Linked DNA regions of Homo sapiens: region 1 is reported to be linked to region 2. The links are microRNA targets in miRTarBase. Many come from high-throughput screens and were not tested one by one. Region 2 holds a microRNA gene; the other region holds the end of a gene's coding sequence.

The links. Region 2 holds the annotated microRNA hsa-miR-26b-5p (UUCAAGUAAUUCAGGAUAGGU, at 2,061-2,081, shown strand). A microRNA usually pairs through its seed, bases 2 to 8, with sites in the 3' UTR of a target mRNA and lowers its output. Matches are read on the target gene's strand: a 7mer-m8 pairs with bases 2 to 8, a 7mer-A1 pairs with bases 2 to 7 and ends in A, and an 8mer does both.
Region 1: miRTarBase lists CBY1 as a target of hsa-miR-26b-5p. The part of its 3' UTR that is shown has no 7-base or 8-base seed match.

The regions. Positions count from the first base shown.
Region 1 is chr22:38,672,426-38,675,819 of GRCh38, forward strand. CBY1 (chibby 1, beta catenin antagonist) reads left to right here. Exons shown (of 5, transcript NM_015373.4): 5 at 734-1,425. The coding sequence ends at 811. TOMM22-DT (TOMM22 divergent transcript) reads right to left here. Exons shown (of 2, transcript XR_007068097.1): 2 at 3,091-3,394. Among named protein-coding and RNA genes, the nearest start is that of TOMM22-DT, 7.7 kb to the right of the region's middle.
Region 2 is chr2:218,400,597-218,403,990 of GRCh38, forward strand. MIR26B (microRNA 26b) reads left to right here and starts at 2,050; the gene lies at 2,050-2,126. CTDSP1 (CTD small phosphatase 1) reads left to right here. Exons shown (of 7, transcript NM_021198.3): 2 at 968-1,116; 3 at 1,515-1,619; 4 at 1,753-1,809; 5 at 2,439-2,531; 6 at 2,636-2,821.

The sequences.
Region 1 (3,394 bases), not on the chromosome of region 2:
TCAAGTGATTCTCCTGCATCAGCCTCCTGATTAGCACCCGCCACCACGCTTGGCTAATTTTTGCATTTTTAGTAGAGATGGGGTTTCACCATGTTGGCCAGGCTGGTCTCCAACGCCTGACCTCAAGTGATCTCCCTGTCTTGGCCTCCCAAAGTGCTGAGATTACAGGCATGAGCCACCACGCCCGGCCTGGATGTTTTTTTTTAAAAATGAGCATAATCGTAGTATCTACCTCATAGTGAGTTAGTACAAGAAAAGCACCCAGCCTGGCCGACAGAGCGAGACCGTGTCTCAGAAAACAAACAAACCAAAAAACAAAAACAAAAAAACCCTAAGGAGGAAAGTGGCATTCTATTTCTAGCATTTTTTCCCCTCATCCCCATTATGGGAGCTACAGCTTAGAATCAATTTCAGCTCTAATCCCTTAGCCTTACAATCACCAGTATCTGCCTTTGACGTCCTCTGAGACCTGCTCTCCTTCGTGCAGGGAGTGCCATGCCCTCGTGGGTGACAGCGTGCTGACAGAGTGGACTGTGAATATTCTTCAAGTACTTGTGGTCCTGGGTCATCAGGGGTTGCATTCTACCCAGTTACAGAGGGTTTCCCATCGAGGAAGCCAGCAGCATCAGAGAAGTGGCAGGGGGCCTTTCCTCCGTGTGTAGGGCCGGCCTTGCTAACCCGAAACATTTCCTAGAAATGTGCTGCTTGCTAACAGCCGCTGCTTCACTTTCAGCTTTCAGAGTCCACTGCTGAATCCCACTTAATGGAGAAGGAACTGGATGAACTGAGGATCAGCCGGAAGAGAAAATGAAGACCCCAGAGACATTTATTGGGGAGTAGGATGTGGCTGAGTGCTTTTTTTTTGGCCAGACTAGCGGATTCAGTCCTGGAAGAGAGTATCATATAATGAGACCCACAGGCACTGGCACCCTTGGGTTGGCAATAGAAGGTGACATGGAATGGAGAAAACCAAGATTCCAGATGGGGATAGTAACTAGAAGGTGCTTCAGATGCACTGCCTGCGGGTGCCAGTCTGAAAACCAGACCGCACAGAGGCCTGGGGCTGCTGATGAGCTTTTTGGTGCTCTCCACACACAAGCTCGCAAACACACATGTCCCAGAATAGCTCTGTTGGGTTGTGTTGGGAGAAGCGGCTGGAGTTCATTCTCTCACCCCCTTATGTTGGTGTTTGGCGTGTGACAGCAGTTCTACAGAGCTCTGTGTTGGGGTCATGGATGAGCGGCTCTCTTGGCTCTTAAAGGCAGGCCTCTCTCTTCTTGCCTTTAAAGAATCCTCCTTCCTCACACCTGGCCTCCTCTGGCTTCAGCTTCTCAGCAGCAAGCACCAGCCTTCCACAACAACACTATATTTTTATGCTACTTTCCTGTTTGCACTACTACTTTTTTATTAAACGATGTTAAATAATCTCTCTGTGACCAAAGTGACTAAAAAGAGAACCATGAGTTTCTCAAGAAGTAAATGGAGCTGGCCAGGCATGGTGGCTCACACCTGTAATCCCAGCACTTTGGGAGGCTGAGGTGGGCAGATCACCTGAGGTCAGGAGTTCGAGACCAGCCTGGCCAATAGAGTGAAACCTCGTCTCTACTAAAAATACAAAAATTAGCCAGGCGTGGTGGTGGGCACCTGTAGTCCCAGCTACTTGAGAGGCTGAGACAGGAGAATCGCTTGAACCCAGGAGGCAGAAGTTGCAGTGAGCCGAGATCATACCATTGTACTCCAGCCTGGGCGACAAGAGCGAGACTCCGTCTCCAAAAAAAAAGAATTAAATGGAGCCTGGCCAGGTGTGGTGGCACACACCTGTAATCCTAGCACTAGCACTTTGGGAGGCTGAGGCGGGCTGATTGCTTTAGCTCAGGAGTTCAAGACCAGCCTGGCAATAGCGAAACAAAATACAAAAAAAAAAAAAATTAGCTGGGCGTGGTGGTGCACACCTGTAGTCCCAGTCTCTCAGGAGGCTGAGATGGGAGGATCACTTTGAGCCCAGGGAGGTTGAGGCTGCAGTGAGCTGTGATTGCTCCACTGCACCCCAGTCTGGGTGACAGAGTAAGACCCTGTCTCAAAAAAAAAAAAAAAAAAAAAGTAACTGGAGCCTGGAGTCTAAGCCTCTGTTGTTCCATCAAAAGACAGAATTGGCCGGACGTGGTGGTTCACGCCTGTAATCCCAGCACGTTGGGAGGCTGAGGTGGGTGGATCGTCTGAGGTCAGGAGTTTGAGACCAGCCTGGCCAACATGGCAAAACCCCGTCTCTACTAAAAATACAAAAGAAAATTAGCTGGGTGTGGTAACACATGCCTGTAGTCCCAGCTACTTGGGAGGCTGAGGCAGGAGAATCACTTGAACCCGGGAGGCGGCCACTGCACTCCAGCCTGGGCGACAGAGCAAGACTCTGTCTCAAAAAAAAAAAAAAAAAAAAAAAGAATGTTTAGTGTGTGGGGAACTGTCACTCTTGTAGGAGAGCATTCCAGCTTTCCTGGGCATTGGCAGAGGCTGATGCCAAACAGAAACAGTCTCTCTGCTCAAAATTCGCCTGCCCTCCTGCTTCATGGTGTTGGGACTGGCCAGGACCTGGCAGGAACCTAATGGTTGGTGTGAGAATTTGTGCCGTAGGCAGTATGAGCTGGACTTTTCTGGCAAGAGGAGGGAATCCAGCTCCTGAAGTCAAGCGGGAAGGAACTGAGGGGGTGGAGGTGGGGGCATGGTGCCCAGGGCTTTAGACTAGGGACAGGCTACCATGGTTAGCCACTTCTGAATGCCCGGTACATGCCTGGCACCAGGCTCCCTTTGCTCTCACTGTCTCATTTCCCCTTCAGCTCAGCCCTGTGTAGCAGGGGCTATCGGCACATCCATCTGCAGAGAAGGAAACTCTGGGAGGTTCAGACACTGATCTAGGATCACACAGTAGAAGTGCTGGAGCTTGATTCACACAGCCCGCTATGAAAGAGAGGAGCTGGGGGCGGCCTCAAAGGGAGCTGCTGTCTGCAGTCCATCCTTACGGCCAGCAAAGCACTCTATGGGGGGGATGGATCGAAGGGCAGATTTGTAGCTCCAACCCATAACCTGACTTTCTGATACAGGAGAGAATGTTTAATACAGAAGAAATTGGAAAAGGATCCACATATATGCAAGGTGTAAATCTTCAGGTGCAGATAATAGGAGCAGTGGAGTTTGCTTATGCCTCGGCCGGTATCACTGGGGACCCTTTATTAATATTCCTGATGCTGGACACCTCCCGATGCTGGACACCTCATTTGCATGACACTCTTTCAAGTTTGTTATCCCCATCACCATGTTTTAGATGAGAAAACCAACCCAGCACAGTGACACAGTGGAAGGGTGGGGCCAGGACTGAAGCCTTGGGCATCATGTGGGCATA
Region 2 (3,394 bases):
AGGTGACAGCAGGCTGGGGAGGCTTGGAGGGATCTCCCGCCAACACACAGCTACGTTCCCCACAAACTTCGCGTCACGCGTGGAGGCGCCGACCCCCTCGGAGGCACAGAGAGGACGGCCGGCACTTCCAAGAGTCGCTTGGCGCCCGCGGGGAGAGTCGTGCGCCTAGTGGGCACGCACCACCCCGCAAAGCCTCGCCGCCCCGACGAGGCTGCGTCCCCCAGCGTGGCTGGGCCGGGGTGGGGGGGTCTGTCTTCTCCTTTTCCCCGTGTGGACCTCAGGATCTGGACGCTGCCCCCAGGTCTGCCCACCCTCGCCTGGGTCTGGCTGCCCCGGAACTGAGGGCAAGGTGGAAAGGCTAGTTGCAGGGGGCCGGAGGGGGGTGGGGTGGGAGGGGTATCTGTCAATCAGGCTGCTGGGCTCCAGGTCGGAGGTCTGGGCGGGGCAGGGCAAACAGATGGCCACTGGACACTGGCCCCAGGCCGCGGGACTGCACCCCTGCCTCTGGGCCCAGCCGCAGTGAGGACTTCGTACCCACGGGGGTGGAGAGGATGGAGGGAGGGCAGGGGTGGACTGCCCTGGGTCCCAGGCCCTGGCTGTCCTGAGCAGGGGTGCTCAGGTAAGGTGGGGTCAGGAGGCACCGCAATGGGGCTGATCAGCAGCAGTCATGGAGGCTGTGAGAGGCAGGGAGAGAGCACCCCAGGACCTCCTTCTCCAGGCCACGCACTCCCTATGTGGGCGCCTTAATACCTGCTAGACCTATTTGTCTGGGAGCTGCAGGAGCCTTGCAGTTGATTGTGGAGCCCTGACAGGGGCGTTTCAGAGAAAGTCAGGAGCTGCCTTCGTGTGTCTGGATGAAGGGGCCACGGCAAGATCCTCCTGGCTCAGGGGTTCACACCTGGGCACACATGCAGGATTCTGCAGGCCAGTGTGCACCGAGCCTCCAACTTGTGCCTCCCTACTTCAGGTGACCAGAAGTCAGCAGCTTCCCAGAAGCCCCGAAGCCGGGGCATCCTCCACTCACTCTTCTGCTGTGTCTGCCGGGATGATGGGGAGGCCCTGCCTGCTCACAGCGGGGCGCCCCTGCTTGTGGAGGAGAATGGCGCCATCCCTAAGGTGCGTGGGGGCCAGGTGGGGCCACGGGGGCACCTGGACTCAGTCTTCAGGGCTTTAGGGGAAGGGGCTCCTGACTGAGCTTTTCAGGATGGACTTGCAGACCTGAAAGGTGCAGAGTAGGAGGGTGGCAGCCTCCCCTGCCAGGCCCTGCCCACTGTGGGGAAACTGAATTCTCCCTCATAAGTGGAAGCTTTTTCCTACCTTGGTTTTTAGAGAGGTCTCAAAGAGCCAAGAGGCCTACCCAAGCCCTAGAGCTGGCAGGGGCAAAGCTGGGAAGGGGGAAGTATCTGTTCCTGGGGCCTGGGGTTCCTCTGGAGACGGCTAGGGGGAGAAGCCTGCGTGGGAGGAAGGACCAGGCCCGGAGAGAGGCACCCCAGCCAGCCCCGCCCTCCCTACAGCAGACCCCAGTCCAATACCTGCTCCCTGAGGCCAAGGCCCAGGACTCAGACAAGATCTGCGTGGTCATCGACCTGGACGAGACCCTGGTGCACAGCTCCTTCAAGGTGGGCCCTGCTCAACAGCCCTCAGCCCGGGTCTCGGGGGGCATCCCCCACCCTGGCCTGGGAGGGAGGTGTGTGCTGGACCCCATGCCCTGGGGCTCCTCCTCCAACTCCAGCAGCTCTTTTCCCCCCACAGCCAGTGAACAACGCGGACTTCATCATCCCTGTGGAGATTGATGGGGTGGTCCACCAGGTGAGGGCCAGGAAGAGGCAGTGGTGGGCTTGGCATCTGCCTCCAGACCCTAGGCTCTTCCCACCAATCCGGAGCGCCTCGGATGGGAATTGGATACATGTGGAATGTCAGAGGCCCAGAGAGGGTGTGAGACTTGTCCCAAAGTCACACAGAACCTCAAGGGCTTGTGCTGACTCCAAGCCTGCAGAGTGGGCTCCTCCTCTAGGCTCCCCCGTGCTGTGCTCCCTCGCCCCACCCTGCCCGGGACCCAGTTCAAGTAATTCAGGATAGGTTGTGTGCTGTCCAGCCTGTTCTCCATTACTTGGCTCGGGGACCGGTGCCCTGCAGCCTTGGGGTGAGGGGGCTGCCCCTGGATTCCTGCACTAGGCTGAGGTTGAGGCAGGGGAAGGGATTGGGAATTAGGGACCTCGTGAGGTAGGACTGGCCAGTGGAGTGGAAGTTTTGATCGTTTTCTGGCGGGGGGTGGGTACAGTTTCCCCAGCAGTGGTCAGGGTAGCTGGCCAAGCGGAGCCTGCGGGCCCAGTCTCCTTCCTGTGCGCCTCTGCCTCCCTGGCCCATGCCCTGCCAGCCCTCGGCCACCCCCACACTGCCCCACTGGCCCGCAGCCCCCTCACTGGCCCGCCCCCCAGGTCTACGTGTTGAAGCGTCCTCACGTGGATGAGTTCCTGCAGCGAATGGGCGAGCTCTTTGAATGTGTGCTGTTCACTGCTAGCCTCGCCAAGGTGAGCCCCACAGGGGTCCCGGGGCAACCCTGCCCTCCTACCTACCTCCCGCATGCAGCCCAATGAACCTGCGGGCCCCAGGATGACCCACCTCCTGCTCCCAGTACGCAGACCCAGTAGCTGACCTGCTGGACAAATGGGGGGCCTTCCGGGCCCGGCTGTTTCGAGAGTCCTGCGTCTTCCACCGGGGGAACTACGTGAAGGACCTGAGCCGGTTGGGTCGAGACCTGCGGCGGGTGCTCATCCTGGACAATTCACCTGCCTCCTATGTCTTCCATCCAGACAATGCTGTGAGTGCGGGCTGGACTGGGACTGGGACAGGAGCTGAGACCCAGGAAGGGGTCAGTCCATTCAGGCCACCTTGGCCTCTTGGATCCCCAGTTGGGGGGTGGGTGCCCTCCCAGTCCTTCCTGCATTCATTGCCTGTGCCTGCCGCCCACTCCCCTCATCCACCTGCCCTGTAGCCATATGGTCTTTTCCCCTCGCACAAAGCAGAGCATCTGCCATGCACAGGGGCCCCCACAGGGCAACGGAGTTTGGAAAGTTTCAATTTTTCGAATTGCCAGTTGTGACCTACTGATGGCCCACAGAATTAATTTAGTGGGTTCTGATTGGGAATTTTAACAAAATGAAATAGAATAGAAAATATCCGGTCGGGTGCAGTGGCTCATGCCTGTAATCCCAGCACTTTGGGAAGCTGAGGTGGGCAGGTAGCTGAGCCCAGTAGTTCAAGACCAGCCTCGGCAACATAGTGAAACCTTATGTCTACAAAAAATACAAAAACTAGCCAGGCGTGGTGGCGCATGCCTGGAGTCCCGGCTATGCAGAAGGCTGAGGTAGGAGTATCACTTGAGCCCTGGAGG